3 separate regions of the Homo sapiens genome follow, and all the other regions are linked to region 3. Evidence: fine-mapped expression QTL. A gene starts in region 3. Each other region holds a variant in brackets. All regions are shown on one strand. Distances are between the middles of the regions. Region 1 has its middle 10 kb from the start of MIR29A. Region 2 overlaps LINC-PINT (long intergenic non-protein coding RNA, p53 induced transcript). Region 3 holds the start of LINC-PINT (long intergenic non-protein coding RNA, p53 induced transcript).

Region 1 (8,027 bases), 240 kb before region 3:
TACTTGGGAGGCTGAGGCAGGAGAATTGCTTGAACCTGGGAGGTGGAGGTTGCAGTGACCTGAGATCACACCACTGCACTTCCAGCCTGGGCAGCAGAGCAAGACTCCATCTCAAAAAAAAAAAAAAAAAAAAAAGAAAGAAAGAACATACCTCAGTGTGATAAGGGCCACATGTGAGAATCCTACAGCTAATATTAAATGGGAAAAAATGGAAAGCCTTTGCATTAAGAACTAGAATAAGACAAGGATGCCCACTTTCACCACTTTTATTCAACATAGTACTAGCCAAAGCAATTAGTCAAGAGAAAGAAATAAAGGGCATGCAAATTGGAAAGGAAGAAGTTGACTTATCCTTGTTTGCAAACAACGCGATCTTATATTTAGAAAAACCTAAAGAGTCCACCAAAAAAACCTATTAGAAGTGACAGATTCAGCAAAGTTACAGGATATAAGATCAACATACAAAAATCAGTAAAATTTCTATATGCCAGCAGCCAACAATCTGAAAAAGAAACCAACAAAGCAATCTTACAACATCTACAAATAAAATGCCTAGGAATAAATTTAGGAGGTGGAAGACTTCTACAAGGAAAACTACAAAACATTGATTAAAGAAATTGAAGAGGATAAAAAGGGCAAGACATCCCATGCTCACTTTTCAGAAGAATTAATATTGTTAAAATGACAATACTACCCAAAGCAATCTACAGATTTGATGCAATTCCTATAAAAATACCAATGACAGTTCTTCACAGAAATAGAAAAAAAAAATCCTAAAATTTATATGAAAACACGAAAGACCCCAAATAGCCAAAGCAATCCTGAACAAAATGAACAAAGCTGGAAGCATCACATTATCTGACTTCAAATTATACTACAGGCCAGATGCAGTGGCTCATGCTTCTAGTCCCAGCACTTTGGGAGGCTGAGGTGGGTAGATTGTTTGAAGCCAGGAGTTCGAGACCAGTCTGGTCAACATGGCGAAACCCCGTCTCTACTGAAAATACAAAAATTAGCTGGGCATGGTCGCGGGTACCTGTAATCCCAGCTACTTGGGAGGCTGAGGCAGGAGAATCACTTGAACCTGGGAGGCGGAGGTTTCAGTGAGTCGAGATTGCATCACTGCACTCCAGCCTGGGCAGCAGAGAGAGACCCTGTCTCAGAAAACAAACAAATTAAACTACAGAGGTATAGTAGCCAAAAAAGCATAGTACTGGTATAAAAACAGACACATAGACCAATGGAACAGAATGAAGAACTCAGAAATAAGTCTTTGTACTTAGAGCCAACTCATTTTCAACAAAGGCACTAAGAACACATACTGGGGGGGAAAAGAGTCTCCTTAATAAATGGTGCTGGGAAAACTGTATATCTGTTTGCAGAAAAATAAAACCGGATCCCCATCTTTCATCATATACAAGTATCAACTCAAAATGAATTCAAGACTTAAATGTAAGACCTAAAACTATGAATCTGCTAGAACAAAACACTGAAGAAATGCTACAGGACATTGGTTTGGGCAAAGATTTTTTAGGGTAGGACCGCAAAAGAATAGGAAGTCAAAGCAAAAAATAGAAAAATGGGATTACATCAAGCTAAGAAGCTTCTAGACAGCAAAGGAAGGAACAAAGTGTAGAGACAGCCTTCAGAATGGAAGAACATATCTGCAAACTATCCATCTAACAATGAATTAATACATAGAATATGTAAGAAATGTAAACAATTCAATAGCAAAATAACAATCTGATTTTTTTTTAATGGGCAAAAGAGCTGGGTAAAAATTTCTCAAGACATACAAATGGCCACAGGTAGATTACAAAATGCTCAACATCACTAATCATCAGGGAAATGCAAATCAAAACCACAATGAGTTATCAACTCACTTCAGTTAGAAATCTATTATCAAAAAGAGAAAAAAATAACAAATGCTGGCAAGGATGCAGAGAAAGAGGAACCCTGGTATAGTGTTGGTGGGAATGTAAGTACAATAGCCACTATGAAAACAGTATGGAGGCTTCTCAATAAACTAAAAATAAAACTACCATATGATCCAGGAATCTCACTGCTGGGTGTATATCCAAAAGAAGTCAATATATCGAAGAGGTATCTGCACTCCAATGTTTACTGTAGAACTATTCACAATAGCCAAGATTATGGAATCAACCTGTGTCCATCAACAGATGAATGGATAAAGAAAATGTGGTATATATTCACAGTGAAATATTTTTTCACCACAAACATAATGAAATCCTGTCATTTGTAGCAACATGGATGGAACTACATGTTATTGAGCACCAATGTCACATATTTTCATTTATGTGTGTGAGTTTAAAAAGTGGATCTCATGGAAGTGGCCAGTAGTGGAGAGTAGAATGGTGTTTATCAGAGGAGAGGTACGGAGTGGGGGCAGGGGGAATGAAGAGAAGTTGGTTAATGGGTACAGAAATAAAATTAGAAGGAAGAAGTTCTAGTATTCAACAGTACAGTAAGAAAATCATAGTTAACAATAATTTATTGTATGTTTCAAAATAGCTAGAAGAACTGTAATGTTCCCAACACAAAAAGGTAAGTATTTAAGATGACACATATCCCAATTAACCTGATTTGATCATTACACATTGTATACATATATCAAAATATCACACATACCCCAAAAATATGTACAACTATGATACATAAATTAAAAATACAAAAAAAAAAAGGAGGGGGCAGGCATGGTGGCTTATGCCTGTAATCCCAGCACTTTGGGAGGCCAAGGCAGGGTGATTGCTTGAGCCCAGGAGTTGAGACCAGCCTGGGCAACATAGTAAGACTCCATCTCTACAAAAGTTTTAAAAAATAATTATCCAGGTGTGGTGGTGCACACCTGTAGTCCTGACTACTTGGGAGACTGAGGTGGGAGGATCATCTGAGGCTGGGAGGTCAAGGCTGCAGTGAGTCGTGGTTGCACCGCTGTACTCCAATCTGGGTGCCAGAGCAAGACTCTGTCTCTAAAAAAAAATCACCAAAAAAGAAGACATAACTTACTGCCAAAGTGAGAAAGACAATGGGATAAATTCAGATTGAGACCTATGGTTCCTAGTTCAGGCAACACTTGAAGACAGAAGGGGCCTGTCATAACATGGAGTTGGGAGTTGGTTTTTTTCCTCTGGCTAACCTAAGCATTGGCTTAGAGGTTATCAGAGTGGGGGAAGACAGAGAATACTTCTCTGAAAGACTCCCTTTGTTTTCCTCCTACAGAGAGGGTTTCCTTCAGGTTCACATTTGTTATGTCATTGGCTCTGACCATGGTGCTGAATCCTCTGAACTTGAAAATTGAACTCCTACAAAGGTAGTAGATTCAAACTCTTAGTTGTGAGATGTGCTAGAAGTGATATGGGGAAGTGCAGCACCCCCACCCCCCTTCTGTACTTCTACCAACCTTATCTGCTCCCTTGAGCTCCTTTTGAGGTATAAAATATAGCGGAAATTTCTGGCTAAAATTTATAGATTCGGATGCTCCCATTTCCTGAACGCCATCTACATAGGAGTAGTTCTTTGAATTGTCAGAAAACAACCTGGCCCCAAAGTAAACTCAAGGCAGGCCAAGCACAATATTTTTGCCATTTATGGCGAATGATAAGAGGTATGTCACAGTTCCTAAGACAACCACAAGGGCTTCTGCTCAGTGTGGGTTTTGCTGACTTCAC[T/C]GGAGTCAGCAGCAGTGGGCTGCTTCATTGCTGACATTCAGCAAATGTGGGTTTATATAAAGCTCTGTCATAGGCTGATCCTCCATAATCCCACAGAATCTGCAGGGAATAGTACTTTCCATGCTAATGTGATTGAACACAGAGAGTACCTATATTATGCTAGGCATATGCTAGGAATATGGACCCTGAATCAAGAAGTTTACAGTCTATTTGGTGAGAAAAACGTGCATGTGGGTGATGCAAAGTAGAATGTACTATGTGTGTTACCAGAGATCCCATGTGTTAGACCAATAGTGACAGGACAGTGGTCTGTTCTGATCTGGAACCTGACCAGAGGCAGTCCTTAGAGTACTGAGCTCTGAGCTCGACCTTCCCCTCACCTTTCATTTCAAGTTAGGGGTGGACATATCTGAGTTGGTGGAGTCTGGTCAGCTACAAACCTGTTTTTAGAGATGAATTCTGTGCTATGAGACTCTGGTCACGAATCATGGAACTTCTGCTTTCTGAGAGCTTGTGTGGATTGTTTATTCTTCCAAGGACTGTTAACCAGTGAGAAGATAGTTAAGACAGGCTGGGGCAGACAGTGTTTAATCTGCTTCAGAGACACAAACTGCAGCTCCATCCCACCAGCATCTGCCAACACAAGGCAGAGAGATTAGTGTGTGGACGTGGCACAAACAAAGAAAGGGATGCACAGGGATTGGTTTAGGAGGGAGAAGCCACAGGATGAGCCTTTCCTCTAGGGGACCTGGGAGAGGGTCGAGCAACAGGAGTGGAGGGTCTTGCCTCTCATTCAACATCAAGAGTCCTGCATACCTCCTGGGATCCCTTTCTCAGAACTTAAGGACTTAAGAGAGAAGGTGTGGTATGTTGAGCCAGACATTAACTTTGTCTAGGAGAACAGCATGGGTTTTTAGCAGCATGGAAGGGTGGCACTTGCGATCAGTTTAGCTGCTTAAGCCAGTATCCTGAGCTGAGAAAGGCCTGAGGAGCAGAGTTCTGGGCACAGTACAGGAAAACCCCTCTCAGTGCCTAGAGAGTACCTGGAGCAGGGTAGGTGCTAAATAAATTTTTACTGAACTGAATTCTTGCTGAGCTACTAAAGGAGAGGTGAACAGCTGCTTCTAAGGGCTGATACTATGCTCCAGAAAGCAGAGGAATGTGTCACATGTCTGGTCTTTTGGACTCACAGCAGACCTCACATTCTATAGCACTGAGGGGCTCCTGCTGCTGGGACAGAGACATGAGCTCAGGATCAGCTCTCCCAGGGACCCAGAACGCAGCCCATCTTCACCAGCCATAGCACCTTCAGATAAAAAAGGCCAACACATATGTCCACAAGTCCTCTTTTTCTCTGTCACTTTCACTTCCCAGACATTTCGAGGTACTGCTATTGACCTTCGCTTCTATATTGGGAAAATGGGGCTAGTGGGTTTTTTTTTTCCATGCCCATCAGGACCCTTCCAAGGCCATTTCAAAGTAATTCGCAGGTAAGGTACCCACAAGAATCTCTTATCTGTTGCCTCTTTTCCTTTGGAACTCAGTTCATAATTTACATTTGTGCCAGCCTCTTTCCCATCCAAGTTTCTAATTTTTTGTTTTTTGACATAGAAAGCTGGTAAGTGAGCTGGATTAGAACAGGAGTCCATGTACAATCCACACTTTGTGCCTTTGTCCTTGTTCTCTTGCCTGCCTTTGACCTTCCTCTCTGGCCTGTTCAGTCACAGGAAGGAAGAGAGAGGCAGCTATCTGCAAGAGCAAAAATGCCTCTTACAAAAGCATACCCAACGGCTGTCCTTTTTTCCAAGACCAGTTCTGACAGCTAAGAAGGCTGACACCCAGCTGGCATCCTCTGGTACCTTTGTCCTGTCACCTCCTGCCACACCAAGCCTCTGGCACAGTATTGGTTACCAACTTCTGTCAGGCCTGCACCATCTTCTGCCCAACCCACAGTGGGTGGCATCCAGCATGTTCAGGGTTGATACAGATTGGTTCAGGGCCATAATTTTGTGGACTTTTTTTTTCATGAATGCAGAATTTATAGGTGATAGAAGCACCACTATGTTTCTATCCTCCTCCTCTTTGACTTCCTCCTGTGACTTTTGGTGAACAAGGTCCTCATCCACCTACAGACCCCTTTCATCTCCAGGAGGAAGGGCTGTGTGCCTCCTGCCCTTCGTCTCCACTCTGGCTGTAGAAAGTGCTAATCCTGAGACAGCAAGTCTGCACAGTTTGGCCCAAAGCTTCCTGGCCGCACCCACATACCAGGGCAGTGCCAGCTTGCTCCCTTCTAAGGCAGCATCTATTGTTTCCGTACAGTGGGCAGGGTTGGCCATTCGGTGCAAGGCCACCTGAGTGGAAAACGCCTCTTCAAAACAGGGTGGCTTCAAAACAGTTGACTACACTTTGTTCTTTGGCCCCTGAAGAGGAGAGAGAGAGTAAATGAGAGGTGTGGAGCTTCGCTAGAAGCAGACTATGGGAATTTAAAATCGATGCCAAAAATCCTTCCGTCAGCTTATTAACAAAACACAATTTCTATGGGGTTCCAAGCTCCATTCTTGGAAAAAAATCAAAGCCCACTGCAATGGGTGGCCATTATACCCAGAAGGAATGGAGGAGAGGAAACACTAGAGCTTCTTCCCATCCTCACTGACCAAGGAAAGCTGTTCTTCCTTCTGATGCCTCTGTTTTAACAGCTGTAGAATGGAGGTAAATACTAAAAATACAAAAAACTAGCTGGGCATGGTGGTGCACACCTGTAGTCCCACCCACTTGGGAGGCTGTGGTGAGAGGATCACCTGAGCCTGGGAAGTCGAGGCTGGAGTGAGCTGTGATCACACCACTGCACTCCAGCCTGGGCGATGGGAGTGAGGTGAGACCCTGTCAAAAAAAAAAAAAAAAAAGAAAAAGAAAAAAAAAAAGGTATATTAAATGAAAAAGACCTCTATTATGGCACAAACTCAGGAAATTTAAAGGACACAAAGGATAAACAGAATCTCCTCAAAACTTCCAGAGCAAAAGGGCCAGAAATCAGCATTGTATCAGACCTCTTCACAGCACTGGGGGCTAGAAAACCAAAATCTGAGCCAGTCAGGAATTCCATAACCAGTGAAATGATCAATAAAATATGGGCAAAATGAAAAACCTAAAAAAAAATGACCTTTGTCAGGAAACTGCTGAAGGATGTGTGCGTGTGCGCGCGCGCACACACACACACACTGACTGTGTGTGCGCACACACACTGACTGTGTGTGCGCACACACACACTGACTGTGTGTGGGGTCTGAAAATGCTGAGGGGAATGTTACAGTTCTGTAAGGTTTAGGAATTAAGTATATCATGAATTAAATTTAAAATGATGAAATTATTCATCTCAGAGTTTATAAGAAGTTTTAAAAGGAAATCTAAAACTATGTAGTTATGATATCAACAGTATCTATATAATTATCAATACCATTCTTGAGTTAACCGAAAACTGTGTTCTAACTAAATTGTGAAGGCGAATGGAGTAATATGTGTACAGGTGGCAGTGGAGTTAAAGCTAAATTCTCATTTCCCATAGTAGAAAAATTAAAAAAATTAAAAAAATAAAGTCAAAATGAAGACATAGAGGTATGAGCATTTTAAAATGGAAGTAACAGTCTATAGAATCTCTTATCAGAAGAAACAGATAAATGATTTGAAAGCAGCTGCCTGCGAGAGAAAACAGTAGGACAGAGAACAGCTGTTTGTTTGCTCTGGGACTCAGTGCCCTCTTACTTGTTTATGGATATATATTACACTGACAGAAATAAAAGTTTAAATTTAAAGAACGAGACAGCTCAAATGCCAGTACGAACCTGTGAGTGGATAAACAAAATGTTGTCTATCCAAATAATGGAATATTATTCAGTCATAAAAAGGAATGAAGTACTGATACACACTACAACGTGGATGAATCTTGAAAACATCATGCTAAGTGAAAGAAGCCAGTCAGAAAAGGCTGCGTACCTTTTATCATGCATCATCCCTGTTGTATGTATGTATCATGTATCATACCTATTGTATGATTCCGTTTACATGAAATGTCCAGACTATGTAAGTCTGTAGAAAGCAGATTTTGCCAGGAGCTGGGAGGAGGAATGAATGAAGAATGTCTACTTAATGGGTACAGGTTTCTTCTTGGGGTGATTAAAATGTTGTGGAGTTAGAGAGTGGTGATGGTCACACAACACTGTGAACATACTAAGGCCACTGAATTGTATGCTTTAAAATGGTTAAAATGGTAAAAACGGTAAGTTTTATGTTATGTGAATTTTTAACCTCAATAATAAAGGAAGGAACACTGTATAGTGGATT
Region 2 (8,027 bases), 150 kb before region 3:
CACAAAGATACAAGTCCAAACACAGGCTTGGGAAGGTGGTATTTCAAATGAGTGGAGAGGACGACGTAAACTTGAAATGCGTTTCCTTGCAAAGTCCTTTTGTAGAGACAAATAATTCTGGTAATGAATATGAAGCATCCCCGGGTATTTTCAGAGCATGCATTTCCCAAGGAGCTCAAAAGAAAACACTTTAATTCTATATCCTTTTGAGAGAATGGGAATTAAATAACAAAACGTGACCGATTCAGCCAAATGGGGAGTCTATTATGAAGAGTGAGACAGCTGAATCACAGCAGAGTGGAATGCACTTTTGCTTTATATGTTTTTCCTTTACTCATTCCTTTTTTGGTGTTCCTTTATTATAAAGTTAATATATTATTACCAGCCAGCAGTTACATAGTGCTCACTATGAACCAGGCACAGCTCTAAGCCTTTTGTATACTTTAACCCAAACCATGAGGCACGTACTCTTATTCTCCCCATTTAGGGAGAGAGACAAGAACGTCGATTCCTTCGCCGGTGTTCAGTGGCAGAGCTGGTATTCCAATCCAGGCAGCCCAGCCTCAGAGTCCCGCGCTAATCACTTCCCTATACCACCACACCATGAAAGCACCAAATTCAAAGTCCTAAAATTTAGGGTATCAAAAGAGAGCATCACCATTTACTGTACCTTTCTAACAGAATAATTTGGGTGCATTTCCTACTCTATTCAGCCTTTGGTTTCCAAATCAAGGAATCTTTTAAAAGAAAGAAAGTTCTATATTCAAATAAATATGCTCAACCAAACCGTTTACAAAAACCTTTCCAAGTAGAGATTCTACTCATAGACAAGGCTTCTTTAAAATCAGATCTACTTTTGCATACAATATACTTGTTATTAAAACAATTTTTTCCTTTACAAGCATCTTTACATTATGAAAAACATCTTTCTTAAGAGTATTTATTTTTTGTCTGGCCCACATTTCATTATAATAAGTTCCAAATCACTCATTTTTGAATCCACACATATCCAAGTTTTCAGATAAGAAAAGTGAAGTTAATTTTGTTCTTCTTGAAGTCGCCTGCAGGCTCAGGCTAGATCTCACTTTTTATGGTCTATTTCTGTGCAGATAAGAACATCACATTTAACATGGGAATGTTGGAACTTCTGGAGGCTTCAGCAGGGTTAGCTTCAAAAAACAAGCAAAAAATGCCTCCCACCACATACAGCTTCTATCAGTGATCTTTGACATAAATGTTTCACGATATAGAAGTTAAAGAGTATGCCAGTCACTTGAGGGTTGACCAATGTGAACTGTTATTTCCTAGACTTGAGTACATGCCGCATGTGGTCTATATAAACATTCTTTAAGTTCCTTTGAAATAGACCCACACATATATGGAAAACTGATTTTCAAGAAAGGCGCCAAAGCAATTCAATGGAAAAAGGAAAGTCTTTCCAACAATCCATGTTAGAACAACTGGGAAAATGTATGCAAAAATATGAACCTTGACTTCTACTTAACCCCATATATAAAAATCAACTGGAGATAGATCATAAACTAAAGCATAAAAGCTAAAGCTATAAGTCTTCTAACAGAAGGCACAGAGAAATATCTGCACAATCCTGGGGAGGCAGATTACTTAGGAAACAAAAAATACAGATAATATAGAAATCTTTGTTTTAATTTTTAAAAATATATTTTATTTTTTTGTAGAGAGTTGAGGTCTTGCTATGTTACCTAAGCTGCTCTCAAACTCCTGGGCTCAAGCGATCTTCCCCTGCCTTGGCCTCGCAAAGGAAAAACATTTTTGATCAATGAAATTATTTCAAAGTTAAAACCTTCTGCTCATCAAAAGACACTTTTAAAAAACAGCAGGTAGACCATAGACTGGCAAAATATTTGCATTATAAACTTCTGACAAGAATATTTTATTCAGAATATGTATAACATTCCTACCAACCAAAATAATAAGACAATCCAATTTTAAAACAGGCAAAAGAAAAACAGACTCAAACGACTTGAACAGACACTTCAAAAGGGAAGATACACAAATGGCCAATAAGTATATGTGATTCATCTAGAAAATGCAAATTGAAAACTACAATGAGATACTACTTCATATCCAAGAGAACGACTATAAGTAGAAAAACCAGCAATATACAATGTTAAGATACCTGGTCACCTGGAACTTTCATAAATTGCTTGTTGGAGTGTAAAATGGTACGATTACTTTGGAAAATGACTTGGCAGTTTCTTACAGAGGTACACATACACCTAGTGTACGGTGCAGCAATTAAACCTAAAAAAGAGTGAGAGTGGGCCAGGTGTGGTGGCTCACGCCTGTAATCCCAGCACTTTGAGAGGCCGAGGCTGGTGGATCATTTGAGGTCAGGAGTTTGAGACTAGCCTGGCCAACATGGTGAAAGCCCATCTCTACTAAAATTTTAAAAATTAGCCAGGTGTGGTGGTGCGTGCCTGTAGTCCCAGCTACTCAGAAGGCTGAGGCAGGAGAATCGCTTAAGCCTGGGAGGTAGAGGTTGCAGTGAGCTGAGATTGCCCCACTGCAGCTCAGCCTGGGTGACACAGTGGGACTGTCTCAAAATAAAAAATAAAAAAAGAAAGAAAAGAAAAAGAGTGAGAGTGAGAGAAAACTCATTCACAGCAGCTTAATATTCATAGTAGCCAAAAATGGGGAAATAATCAATATGTCAGTCAACAAGAGAACAGAGTTTAAAATTGGGTCTATTCATACAATGGAATACCACCCAGCAATAAAGGAAGAATGATACAGACAACTATATAAAACTGTTGCGTGAAAAAAAAAGCCAGACGCAAAAGAGTATATACTGCATGATTCCATTTAGAGGAAGCTCAAGAACAAGACTGCAATGATAGAAAGCAGAAAGTTTTTGCCAGTGAGGGTGGCGAATGACTGAATGGGGCAAGAGGAAACCTGGTGATAGAAACGTTCTCTCTCTTAACTGGGGTCTGGGAACAGGAGTACACTGAATGTCTGTGCATTTCAATGCATGTAAATTTTACATCAATTAAAATGGAGGGATGGTAGGATTTCCTTAATTGTCTTGACATCCCCATGTCCTCCTGAAGAATGCAATTTGATTCGCACACTTAGATCCCATCAAATGGTGCCTGTATCTGGATTACTTCAGTTCACAACTAGCCATGGCTCTCTCTTCTCTGGGGGACCATCCATACAAGGTATTTCCTCCAGAGGAAAAGAAAGAATTTGCTGGTTCTCCTCTCATTCAACAGTAATAGCCAACCAATAGGCCAGGTCCCAGAACCAGTGTGGGAGTGTTCTACATTCTTGCAGTCACAGAATGTTTTTTTTAGGCCCACCATTTTTCAGCAGACATCTGACAATCCACACTCAGAAACATTCTTCATCTCTAGGAAGTTATGCGAAATAGGTGGGAGAAACAAGGTGTGGAAAGGGGGTGTTTGGCATAGGCTGATGATAGATGTTCTGGTCAATACCAGGAATAAAATCCCAAGTGTGTTCTGCTTGCCTGGGAGCTCACACCCTCAGAGCTAAGTAGATTTCACTACTCTCCATCTCTGCTTCCAAGGGCATGGCCTCAGAGGACTTGCTCTTTGATCTAGAACTGTACAGGAGGCTCTAAGCTGGTAAACAACTTACAGGGGTACAGAGGTCAGATAGGAGAAGGCCCTTATGACCCTTACTATCTTCAACTGTCTCTAAGCAGCTACATTAAAAATAGCTAACATCCATCACTATTACTTTGCAAATTTTAGAGATAGATTTTAGCCTCCTAGTATTGTGCTAGAAATGAGGCTAGGCCTGAGAAGAACCTAAAGCTTCCATCATGTTGCAGTAATTGGCCCTAACTGTGGAATACCTCTGAGAAAGATCTCCAGGGATTTTTCACAAAGAAACTGCTTTCTAAGTAAAAGGAGGGAAGCATGAGATGGAAACATCAATTCAGGCTTTCTTCTGACACAAACGGACACCACTTGTGTCACAAAAGTTAAAGAACTAGTCAACATCTTACTTTTCCCATCTTCACAGTGTCTGCTGACACTTTCAGGACCGACCTGACGAACATGACAAAGGGATAATTAACAAGGGTTTGGAGATTTTTTCCACAAAGGAGATGGGAAAAGAGAATGTGAATTGCTTCTTATAAGGAAAAGAAGAGGGAGTATGAGGGTCTATAGCCCAAGAAATAAATAGTACAGAAGGGAAGAATAGGAAATTCTCTCAGAAGCTCTTATGCTAAAGGGCAGGGAAGAAATCAAGCAAGCGTATCCACATTTAATTTGTATTAAGATCAGGAACAAGTACCACTACTTAAAGATTTTTTTAAATGACTAAGTTGGATGTTTTACAAGATGCAACTTTCTTCTAGCAACAAAGCTAAAAGATCCTCTTATGGGGCTCTATGATTAATGGCTATGTCTTTACTGGCTGGAAAGTGTATCTTTGTATAATAGTGTCAGCCCACTGTTTCCTCCCAATCCAGTAATTGTGAGGGTTTGTTTTCCCAAGCCCCAGTACCCACTGCAGTCATCATGCTCCATCTAATCTTTTTCCTGGCTAAATGCCTGACTAAAGGTATTTCCAATTTACTTGTTCAGATATATTTCTGACAAATCAACAAATGAAAGTACTTCTCCTTTCATGATGGCGGTCAGGGC[G/A]CCTGGAAGACCCCACTACGGTTATAAAAGGGGTATGTAGACCCACAACAACAACAAGTTTCAGGGGCCTGAGAGATTTCACCAAATGTCAGGAAGCCAGAAGGATGTGGGGAGAGCACTGAGCGATGAAGCTGAGCAGAGGCAGCTTACAGCCCGGAGAGTTCTGAGCGGGTACTGCCAAGGCAGTGAAGAGTTGATTTTATTCAGATGGACCCCAAACAGGCTCCAGACTCAGGAAAAGTAAGAACTGTGACAGAAGTGACAAGAAAGGTAGAAAGGAGAAGAGTAATTGAAAAGTCTGGAAATAACAATTATTCTTTTCATGACTACTTCCTGTCTTTATAAAAAAAAACCTTATAGCTTCCCCACTTCAGAGCAAAAATAAGAAAAGGGAGATAATTTTCTAAAAAAAATTAAACAAACGTCTGGTGAAGACTAAATAGCTAGTGTGGTTAAGAGAACCCCACAGTCAAGCCCTCCTCATTCTGACATCTAGCAGTTCCCCAGCAAGAGGGCTCAGGGTGGCTCTGTGTACCCAGGCTGAAGCCTGCTAGAGGCAGATGCTGTCATGCAGAACTTCTAGGCAGCCGTAATGGCACTTCATTTTTAAAAAGAAAATCAAATATATATTTTAAAAGTCTGCAACATGAAAGAGAAAAACCAAGATAAACAACAATAACAAAAAAGAAACAGAATATTTAAGAAAAAGATTTTTTTCTAAAAAAACTAAAAAAAAACCCCCAATTTATTAGTATTCCTGGAAATATTTGAGAATTACATCAACATAACAACAACAACAACAACAAAAAAGAACTACAAGAAAAAGCTCTATGAAATTAAAAATGCAAGCCTCAAATAACAATAGGGAACACTATGTGTGCACATGCTTGAGTAACTTAACCTCACACTTGTACTTCTTTTTTCCTTTTTTTCTTTTCTTTTTTTTTTCCTGAGACACAGTCTCATTCTGTCGCCCAGGCTGGAGTGCAGTAGCGTGATCTCAGCTCACTGCAACCTCTGCCTCCCAGGTTCAAGCAATTTTCCTTTCTCAGTCTCCCAAGTAGCTGGGATTACAGGTGTGCACCACCACGTGCAGCTAACTTTTGTATTTTTAGTAGGAATGGGTTTTTGCCATGTTGGCCAGGCTGGTCTCAAACTCCTGACCTCAAGTGCTCCACCCACCTCAGACTCCCAAAGTGTTGGGATTACAGGCGTGAAACACCACACCCAGCCTTTGTATTTCTGATTTAATCTACCATATAGACAATACCTTACCTAGAATGTGTTATATTTTACAGTACTGTCAACAGTTTGTAATGGCATATGTGGACTATGTTCATGACAAAGGGACAGTGCCACCATGTCCACTGTTCAAGAAAACCTGAGTCTGTTTTTAACTCCTCTGCAAGTTTACAGTTTACTTCTCTCAATACCTGCTCATCTTTTCTACAGAAGGGGAGTAACCAAAAGTCACAGGTTTTTTTTGTTTTCGTTTTGTTTTTTTGAGACAGAGTATCACTCTGTCACCCAGGCTGGAGTGCAGTGGTACAATCTCGGCTCACTGAAACCTCTGTCTCCCAGGTTCATGCAATTCTCCTGCCTCAGCCTCCTGAGTAGCTGGGATTACAGGAGTGTGCCATCACACACGGCTGATTTTTATATTTTTAGTAGAGACAAGGTTTTACTATGTTGGCCAGGCTGGTCTTGAACTCCTGACTTCAGGTGATCCGCCCACCATGGCCTCCCAAAATGCTGGGATTACAGGCATGAGCCACTGTGCCTGGCCATGTTTTGTTTTGAGACAGAGTCTTGCTCTATCGCCTAGGCTGTAGTGCAATGGCACGATCTCAGCTCACTACAACCTCTGCCTCCCGGGTTCAGGTGATTCTCCCGCCTCAGCCTCCCGAGCAGCTGGGATTACAGGTACCTGCCACCATGCCCAGCTAATTTTTGTATTTTTAGTAGAAACGGGGTTTCACCATGTTGGCCAGGCTGGTCTTGAACTCCTGACCTCAGTGATCCACCTGCCTCGGCCTCCCAAAGTTCTCGGATTACAGGCATGAGCCACTGCACCTGGCCCGGTCATGTTTTTAGAGTGACATATGAAGACTCCTAGAAAATATTAATACAGAAGAACTAGCTTACTATGAAGATTTCAAAATACTAATACAAATTAATGAGGTACACGTGAAATCTTCCCTGGGGAACTTCATGAAGAAGATAAGCATCCCTCCTATCTGGGTAATTTGCATACCCTCCTTCCTTAAACGCTGAGGCACGGATTGGTTCATTGGTTCAAAACCCTATCCATTATTCTCATAGCTCTCTTTATATGACAAAAAAATTCTGTCATGTCCCATTTACTACTCTAAAATCAAATTTGTTGATAATATTAACTACTGTACATGCAGCTTTAAAACATGAATATCCTAAATGTACATAAAAGATAATCTAAAAGAAGCAATTTATAATAAAAAATACTTCACATTTCATTATATAAATAATTTTCAGGTACAATTAACTATGTAATCAAATAGATGCTTGTAACTTACTTATAAAGAAGAAGCTTGTATTTAAGAGAAGTCAGATTAGAAGCTTTCCATATTAAAAGTGCAGGAAAATGAAAGAAGTAGTATAGGTGGACCAGAGAATGAAAATGAATCTATTCTGTGTATATTAAAAGTATGCAAAAATTATTTTGCATTTTTATGAAAAAATAAAGTCTAGGTTCAGAAAATTATAAACTGATCTTTCCCTACACGAATGTCCAACAGGATAACTGAAAGTCATGTGTACTACAGGGCAATTCTTTATCTCTTTTCTACTGTGGGACATTAAGTTCTCTCGCTCTCACTCATGAAATATCCTTCATTAGGCTGGGCGAGGTGGCTCATGCCTGTAATCCCAGCACTTTGGGAGGCCGAGGCCGGCGGATCACCTGAGGTCAGGAGTTTGAGACCAGCCTGACCAACATGGGGAAGCCCCGTCTCTACCAAAAATACAAAAATTAGCTGGGTGTGGTGGCTTGGGCCTGTAATCCCAGCTACTCACGTGGCTGCAGCAGGAGAGTTGCTTGAACCCAGGATACGGAGGTTGCAGTCAGTTGAGATCACACCACTGCATTCCAGTCTGGGCAACAGAGTGAGACTCCATCTCAAAAAAAAACCAGAAAAATCCTTCATTGTACCACCAGAATACCCTCATAAATTTCCACTCTGTCACCTAGGGGGCGGTACTGCTTCCATGAGAACTCCTGACCAGATCATCTATGGGAGTTTCCTTTTAGTCTTCATCGTCCGTCGCACTGAGAATCAAATCCTGATGGACAAATCAGCAACATAGCTAGGAAGCACAGTAACTTAA
Region 3 (8,027 bases):
GAGCAGCGCAGGCAGGTCCTCTCTCCTGGACTAGGCTCCCCGAAGCGCTGCGACGACAAACCTAGCACTGCTCGCCGAGAAGCGCCAAGCCCCTCAGCCAGCGCCGGGGCACCCGCGCGGCAGGGCTCCATCGGGGGCCACACGCCCCCTCGCGCGCCCTCCGCGGGCGCAGGCCCCTCCGGCCCGTGTCACCGCGCCCTCGCCTCCCGCGCCCCGGCCCCCTCCCGCCCACGGCACGTGACTCGACACGCGCCAGCTGCACGCGGGCTCCATCAAAACAAAAACAGAGGAGGCCGGCCGGGCGGCGGCGGGCGCGCGCGGGGGCGGCAGAGAGCGGGCGCGCCCCCGCTGCCCGGCGCCGCGACCGCGCCTCCACCGCCCCGGGCACCGCCGGCCGCGCGCCCCGGCAGGCCGGGGGCGGGAGGGCAGAGGGCACCACCCTGTTTACCGCCACGGCCCCGCCCCGCCAGCGCCCGCTCCCGGAAACGGTCTCCCGGGAGAGGGCCGGCGAGTGCGCACCCACCCGCGGCGGGGAACGCCGGCCCTGCGTGGGAGGCGCCCGGCTCCGGCGGCCCGCCGCCCCCGGCTGCTGCGTGTCACCCCCGTCACGACTCTGCTACGCACTTCGCCCCCAGCTTTCAGCTCCGGCGCTTCCGCAGACCCCTCACGTGGCTGCCGCCTCCCTGCCATGGCACTCCCCGGCGACCGGGGCTGCGGCCCCTAGCGCTGCGAGGGATCCCGAGCCTGTGCCCACCCCACCTTGGACGTCACCCTCCTCGGACCACCCAACCCACACCTTCCGCCTAGGGCGGGGCGAGGGGAGGACGGCTACGAGCTGTCAGGAGCCTCCAGCTTTCCCCGTGACGAAGCTCACCCTCGCCCTGATGTCGCCACTCACCCAGCAGCGGGCTGCGAGCTGGAGCAGACGTTAACACCGAGGGAGGACTGAAGGGAACGTCTTGATTTTTCTCCTTAATTTGCCACAGACACAGGGAAAAAAAAAAAAAAACAAAAACAGCAGACGCAGCTCTACCTTTGCGCTGGCTTTAAAGCTTTTAAGCTCCCCACGTCATCCTACCCCATGCAACAGACTTACCGAATAGCAATGCCCACCCCACACACCTGCTAGGTAACTCGCCTTCTGGAAATCGGGGGCCCCACCCACCCCGCCTTCTGGAAACCTGCGCCTGGGGTGGGGTTGAAGAGACACTGTCTGGTATCCTAAAGTCAGAGGGCGTGAGGAGACCGGCGCCCTTCGCCCCACCCAGGCGCGCTGCACCCTCCGGTCCCCGTCTCTAGAGTGCACCAAGGCATCCTGCGTCCCTGCCGGAGAAAAGAGGGACGGGGCCAGAGGCCCGAGTTCCAGGGAGTTGCTGATTCCAGTGGAGAACCGAGACACCGCGTCCTTTCTAATTAATAAGCACGCCACCCCCTACCTCCAACCCCCCCCCCCGCCCCGCCTTTATTTCTTGTTGACAGCAAAGGTGGGGGACGTGGGAGAAAGGCAAGAGTTGTCTCTAGGTTCGGGATGTTGGGCTGCGCGGAGGGAAGAGGTGGGATCTCGAAATGGAAACAGTCCCCCCTTCCTCCCCCCTCCCCTCCTCCTCCTCCTCCTCCTCTTCTTCTGTTTACCTCAAGTTTGAATTTTATCTGCGCAACATTAGCTGGAATGCGGACATTGAAAAAAAAAAAAAAACACTCTCTCAGCCCGGCAGCAGCTCCGGAGGAGCCATGTGGCATCAAGCCACAGCAAAGGGGAAAAAGTGCTCTTAGCAACACAAACATGGCGAAATCGCTCTCACAAGCCGGGTTCCCGCGACAGCCCTACCTTCCCCCGCTCGCCTTCCGAACGTCCTGGCCAGGAACCGCAGACCCCTTCCGGGGGACGGCGAGGGGGCCCCGGGCTGAGCGAGGGTGGGCGCACGGGGCGTGCTAAGGGGAAATTGACTAGCCAGCCGATCAGCTCCGCCGGCAGCGGAGGGGACGCCTTCTTCACGCCCTGAGATCGCAAAGGAGAGCAAAATTCCCATCCCAAAGTCCTGCGGGACCGGCTTCCCCACCCGACGAACTTACCCCAGGGCTGAACGCACGCTGCTTTAGCTCCTTGCCTCGTTCCTTCCTCCCGGGCGCGACGCGAGGTGAAAATGATGCGCACGTAGATTTGTAGAGCGTATTCTTGAGAATTTCCCTGGGATGAATCGGGAGGAGCGGTGGAGACTCCGGAGACAGGTGCCGCGCTGGTCTGGGCTGCCGGCTAAAAGTTGTCCTCCGCGCGGTGGGCGGTGGGGTCCCCGGCCAGGGCCAAGGACCCCGGCTCCCTGCCCCCCGGCGTCGCCCACTTGTCACGCCAGGCTGCTGCGTGCACTCGGCTGCAGGGGAGGTGGCGTAGTTTCTCTTCCTCCCACCTCTTCTCACTCACTTGTTTTTGTAGCCGTGGGCTCCCCTAATGCTTTCCTCTCCACAATGTTGTTTCATTATATCATGTCCATCATGTGACACCAGAGAGGCCTCTCTATGGAAACTTAAAGGGGCTCCCACGTGACTGCAGCAGCAACAACAGCAGCAGGACTGGCGGCGGCGGCCGCAGCGGCGTCCGTACCTCCACCCACCGGGAGCCCCTCGAAGCATCCCGGAGGGGCTTCTGGCGCTGCAGGAGCCCCGATCGGGGAGCCACAGCATCCGGGAGCCGTGGTGTCTGTGCGTGCGTGGAGCCTGTGCTCATGACATAGGAAGCCGAACAGAAGGAGCGTCCTCAAATCCTTTCCTACAGTCACCAAACCCACGCTCTGTTAAAATGACATTTCGTGGCTCCTACTTTGTTTCCCCGGAGAGCAATGAGTTTTCTATCAGGCCTGATTTAGTTTGACAAAAGTCAAAAAGAAAAACTGGATTTGTCCCTCTGCGAGTTCAGTCAGATCGCTGGGAAAACAGAAATGACAAAACAATAATAACAGAAATAGAACCAGGCATTTGATACATAATTACCATCACCACGGCTTTCAAGCTTTCTGGAATTACGTTCCTCCAGTAACTGTTGATGATGCTTGCAGGAGGCAAAATGCAATGCAGTTTTTCTCTTCCGCAGCTATATTAGGGCTTTGTTGCTGACAACAGTGAAAACTTGTTTGTGTCAGGAAGTGAGGTACGGAGATATGACCTGGAAGGTACAGACAAAACCAAAGTGGCAGTTTTTGCATTACTTTTCTGACCACATTCTTTCAAATGGTGACAAGAAGGCGGTCTGCTGTAAAATTCGTGGGGTGTTTGATGGGAAACAAAATAATCAGAAAAACATAATTATCCCTAGCCATACCATACTTGCTAGACGCTAGAAAGTATACATATATGTAATCTCTGTATACATAGAGAAAGCAAAAAGCATGTGCACTTTAATATTTTTGAACCACTAATTTTGTCATCATTTGTACCATTAACAAACACTTGGAAAGACTCACTCAAGTCCAGGGATGTGTGGAAACTCACAATGTTGAGTGCTGTGGGTATTACTGACTCACAGTCCCTTAAAGGGTTTGTACCATAAATCCCAAATTTCTGCCTTAAAGTTTTTACAGACATGGAGATTTTATCCTGTAAATCTAAGCCAGATAGCTATTTCTGGGTTTTTTAGTTCATGCTTTTCCATTTTATAAAGGAAACTGTGTGGATTGGCGGAATCAAGAAAAACTTCGCAAGAAACTGAAGAGTGGGATGGAAGATCTTTTCGTTTGGCCTTGCCTTGACTCTGTCTCTCTCCACCTCATCAGTTTACTTCATCAGCCATGATGAATGAGCTCCATTCCAACCCTTCTAATTCTATAATATCTCTCCCAAGTTTTACCTTCCTATCTCATGCCTAATTCTTTTCATCCCTTTCCTCCTACCTCCCTTGCCTCCCAACTCAGCCCCTTTTCTGCCTGGGGGCTCAGCTCGGGCCTCCCCAAAGACTGTACCCCCCACCCTCCCCTGCAGCTACCCCCACCCCCACGCCCTTCCCAGCTCGGCCTCTCTTCTTTGCAACTCTACCTCCTTACCTCTTTTGACCTCTAATCACCTTCACAGTCTGGCCCTTGACTTCTGGGCCTCTTCTTACCTCTCTTTACCTGAAATGTCCTGGCCCTCACTGGGGTCTCCTCCACACCCTTCTCTCTGGTCCCATCCCTTCTGCTGCCAAGCCCCAGCGTTCCTCCGGCTCGGCCTGGTCAGCTTGAGCCTCATTTTGTTCGCGTGCCCCTGGGCTGGGAAAGGAGTGTGTGGTGCACAGTGGGGCCAAGGATCCCCTGGGGCCGCGGCCTCTGCCTCGCCCCCTCCACCCCTCCCGAGTCCCGGTTGCGGCGCTTCCTGGGCGGATGGCTTGAAATTGCTGCAGCAGCTGCGGTTCTGCTGTGTCATGCAAGAAGGAGGCGGCGGCGGCGGCGGCGGCGGCCGGAGCTGGAGGGGGAGGAGGGGAGGAACCTGATCCTCCGGTAGCGAAGGGCTAGAGGCAAACACCGAGCTCCTCCAGAGCCGCCCGGGAGCAGGGAGGGCTCCGCTAGCCCGGGGGGCCCTCCCCGCGGGGCAGATGGTAAGTGGGGCGGTGCAGGTGGTCGCCTTGGGAAGGGAGCGCGCAGGGGGGTAAGGTGGGGCGGCGGGAAGTGCTAGAAGTCACCCCAGCCAAACTGAAGGAGCCCAGTTTCCAGCTGAGAGGGACCCAGGCCGTAATAAGGATGTCCAGCCAAACGCAGCAATAATTACTATTGGAGTGACGCCCCGAAGTTGACCCCAAGCTACACAGAGGGTGGAGTGGTGCATCCTGAACCCAGGACAGAGCTGGAGGCAATGATTCAGGGTTTGAGAAGTATCAGCCCATCGGCCTGGCGCTTTAAGGTGCAGCTGAGTAGGAAAAGCCAACCCACATCATATTCCCAGAGCCTTGCTGCGCTTTCTGGGTTGTCTTGTTCAAAACTAGTGAAAGGGATGGGAAACCTGCCCAACCTCACTTTAGCCACGAAAATAATGCTCTTGGCCAGTGGCCTTGGACAAACAGCCTCTGGTGCAACAAAACAATCAATAGGAAGAAGAACTTCATTCCCCTCACCATCCTCCTTCCCCAAGTTCCTTTGACCAGCATACCTCATTCGGCTTAAAGGAGAAAGAAAACTATGTGTGACATTCCCTCCCAGCCTACCTGCAGCCAGCCTCCTCACCACACAAACTGCCCATCCCGCTTCTCTCCTCATCTTCAGAGCCATGATTCCAAGAGACATTGCAATACTACTCACTTTAGGTGAGAAGACTGCCTGAAACTCTGAACAATTTCACCTCCCTTGCCCTTTGCCACAGGGGATTCAGAAACCTACAACTGAGAGCAGGGAAATATACGGACAGGCTTGGCACGTAGGAACATTACTTCCTTCACTGGAGTGTAGTTCTCCAGACAACTTTTTAATTATGATTATTCCCTTCCATTGCACTCCTGGAAATTTCAAAGCACTTTCTAAAACATCATTTTTTTTATGTCAGTCATACATTTAGAGGTAAGGGGTTGATGGGATTAACTGAAAGGCTAATGACTGTCTCAAAAGCACATGCTGTTGCTAGGGAACCCAAGCTCCTGCTGCTCTCTAATCACCAGCGTGTTCCGTGGAAATCAAACTGCTCAGGGTGTTATTAAAATGAATGGCATCGGGTTAAAGGCATTCTTGCTTATGTTGTAGCATCCTGGATTATTATCGATTGCCTCACACCCACATATCTTGTTTTCCTAATTTGATTTCTGTATTTGCGTCACTGCCAGGGACACTCAGACTAGACCAGTCAGTTCACTTCCTGTTTCTCAGAACTGGTTTATATTTGGTCTCGTAGCACTAGCTGGTAAAACATTATCAAACTGATCCTCTTGGAAAGAAATCTTTGCTTCCCATTGAAAACAAAATATTCCAATTAAATTGTAATTCCTGTGGAAAACGTCATCATTTGAGGAGTAGACTGCCAGTTGCCATTTGAGAAACAATCCTTGAAATGTAAAGCCTAGAAAAAAAAAACATCATCTTGATTTCTTTTACCCAGAATCTTCATTCCTCAGCACTAGAACTAAGACAAACTCGAGTAAAGAGTAGATTTAAGTATACTTCTAAAATGAAACGCATAAATAAATAAATAAATAAATAAATAAATACATGTCGAAGCTGGGGAAATCATTTAGACTAAACAAGGCATAAAATTGAATGGAATCCAGGCCCAGGAAGGACAAGTAATTTTGGGTTAGCATTGTGGCATTCGGAGAACACAGTGTGACTACAAGGCTACACTACAAATAGGAAACCCCATCACTTTGTGTACTAATTGTCTTTTTTACCAATTCCTCTATGTCCCTGGACAAGACAACCTTGTTTTGTTTTGTTTGTTTTCAGTTCCTTCCTCTTTATAACAAGGATATTGCAAAGGCAATATCAGAAAGATAAGCCCTATGTAAATAGGTGGATTCTGATGTAGATAATTTGTTTAGATGGAAAATGAAGCCCTTTGAAAAAGATGTATAATGGCATCGATAGCCTGGATGACCTTGAGTGAGCCATTGTAGGTCTTATGTCAGTTTCTTCGTGGAAGCTTAAATGAAAGTGCTGGACTAAAGGATTTCTAAGGTTCCTCCCATTTACAAACTTCTGTGATGAGATTGAACTCACTACATAAAAATTTCAATTTTAGCTGGATTTTGCAATGTTAAATTTAAGCACTGAACCTTTAATATCTATCCATAGGAACCTTGAGGGAAATGATGGGAAATGACTTTCTATTGATGTATCCATTTTTAGTGTCTGTTGACAGAAAAATAAAATTTACCTTGCTCCCCATGTACTTAGTCTCTCCCTGCCTCAGTGGTATTATGGAAGCAACAGGATAAGAGTTACAAAAGGATATAAAAGTATAGAGAAAGTTCTTTCAGTCTACTCACTTATTTATTATGACAACGTGTCACTGTGTTACCCAGGCTGGCCTCCAACTCCTGGGCTCAAGCAAGCCTCCCACCTCAGCTTCCTGAGTAGCTGGGGCTACAGGTGCACTCAACCATGCCTAGCCTTTCAGTCATTTTAGATATAGGTAATCCTAAGTACTCTGATGATCAAAGTGGTGGAATGATGGAGGAAGGGGTGTACAAAAAAATAATCAACTGAATCCTCATGGAACTAATAATAATCTATTTGCCTGTGTTTTAATTAGTGCTAGGCAAAAATAGACCTAGCTCAGCTCTTGGAATTTTTCAAATTCACAGTATTGAGAAGTAGCATGAAGAAATGTGAGATTTGTGCCAGAGAGAAAAGACCTGACTTTGAAACCCAACTCTGCCACTTTATTCATTATTGAGTGCTTGCTGTGTGTCAGGTACTGTGCTGGGTGCTGGGAATACAAAGATGAATAAGACACAGTTTCTGCTCTGAAGGACATTATAGTATCATGAGAACAAAGATGAATATACAGTTGATCACGCAACAGTGAGATGATATCAACAGGGGAGCTCATAAGAATGGTGCCTAACCCTGACCACGCATAGGGTCTCTAACCACACAAGGTGAATCTTGAGATGCGTTCTGAAGGATAAGTAGAAGTAAGCCAGACAAGTGGGCAGGTTACAGGGAAAGATATTCCAAGCAAAGAAAGTACTATGTGTAAAGACCTTAGGGAAAAAGCTGTGTGCAGGGAGTTGAGGGTGAAGAACAGAGCCTGGCAAGTAGGTTCTAAATAAATACATTGTATAAATGCATGGCAGAAGTCCTGGAGGAGAAATCCAGAAAGATTAGCATGGTTGAGTATGTTATCCTAAAAAGTTTGAACTTATTCTAAGGCCAGTGGAGAACCACTGATGAATTTTAAGGGGCATAGTGAACTGATCAAATGTTCATTTTAGAAAGATCTCTCAGCTGGGTGCAGTGGCACACTACTGTAATCCCAGCAGTTTGGGAGGTTGAGGTGGGCAGATTGCTTGAGCTCAAGAGTTTGAGACCAGCCTGGGCAACATGGTGAAACCCCTGTCTCTACAAAAATACAAAAAA

The links.
Region 1: its variant is fine-mapped to the expression of LINC-PINT in whole blood (TOPMed, PIP 0.99).
Region 2: its variant is fine-mapped to the expression of LINC-PINT in whole blood (TOPMed, PIP above 0.99). The same link has a PIP of 0.9 or more in tibial nerve.

The regions. Positions count from the first base shown.
Region 1 is chr7:130,862,364-130,870,390 of GRCh38, forward strand. No RefSeq gene overlaps it. Among named protein-coding and RNA genes, the nearest start is that of MIR29A, 10 kb to the right of the region's middle. The variant T/C (reference allele first, on the strand shown) is at 3,690.
Region 2 is chr7:130,952,154-130,960,180 of GRCh38, forward strand. The region is part of intron 5 of LINC-PINT (long intergenic non-protein coding RNA, p53 induced transcript); the gene reads right to left. Among named protein-coding and RNA genes, the nearest start is that of LINC00513, 43 kb to the left of the region's middle. RefSeq lists a silencer at 5,115-5,164 and enhancers at 5,966-6,025, 7,844-8,027. The variant G/A (reference allele first, on the strand shown) is at 4,665.
Region 3 is chr7:131,105,647-131,113,673 of GRCh38, forward strand. It overlaps LINC-PINT (long intergenic non-protein coding RNA, p53 induced transcript), which reads right to left and starts at 4,279. Exons shown (of 8, transcript NR_170176.1): 1 at 4,091-4,279; 2 at 2,074-3,157. It also overlaps a transcript of MKLN1 not described here. RefSeq lists silencers at 2,168-2,217, 2,238-2,297, 4,355-4,404, 4,485-4,634, 5,785-5,844 and 2 more and enhancers at 2,280-3,131, 5,526-6,067.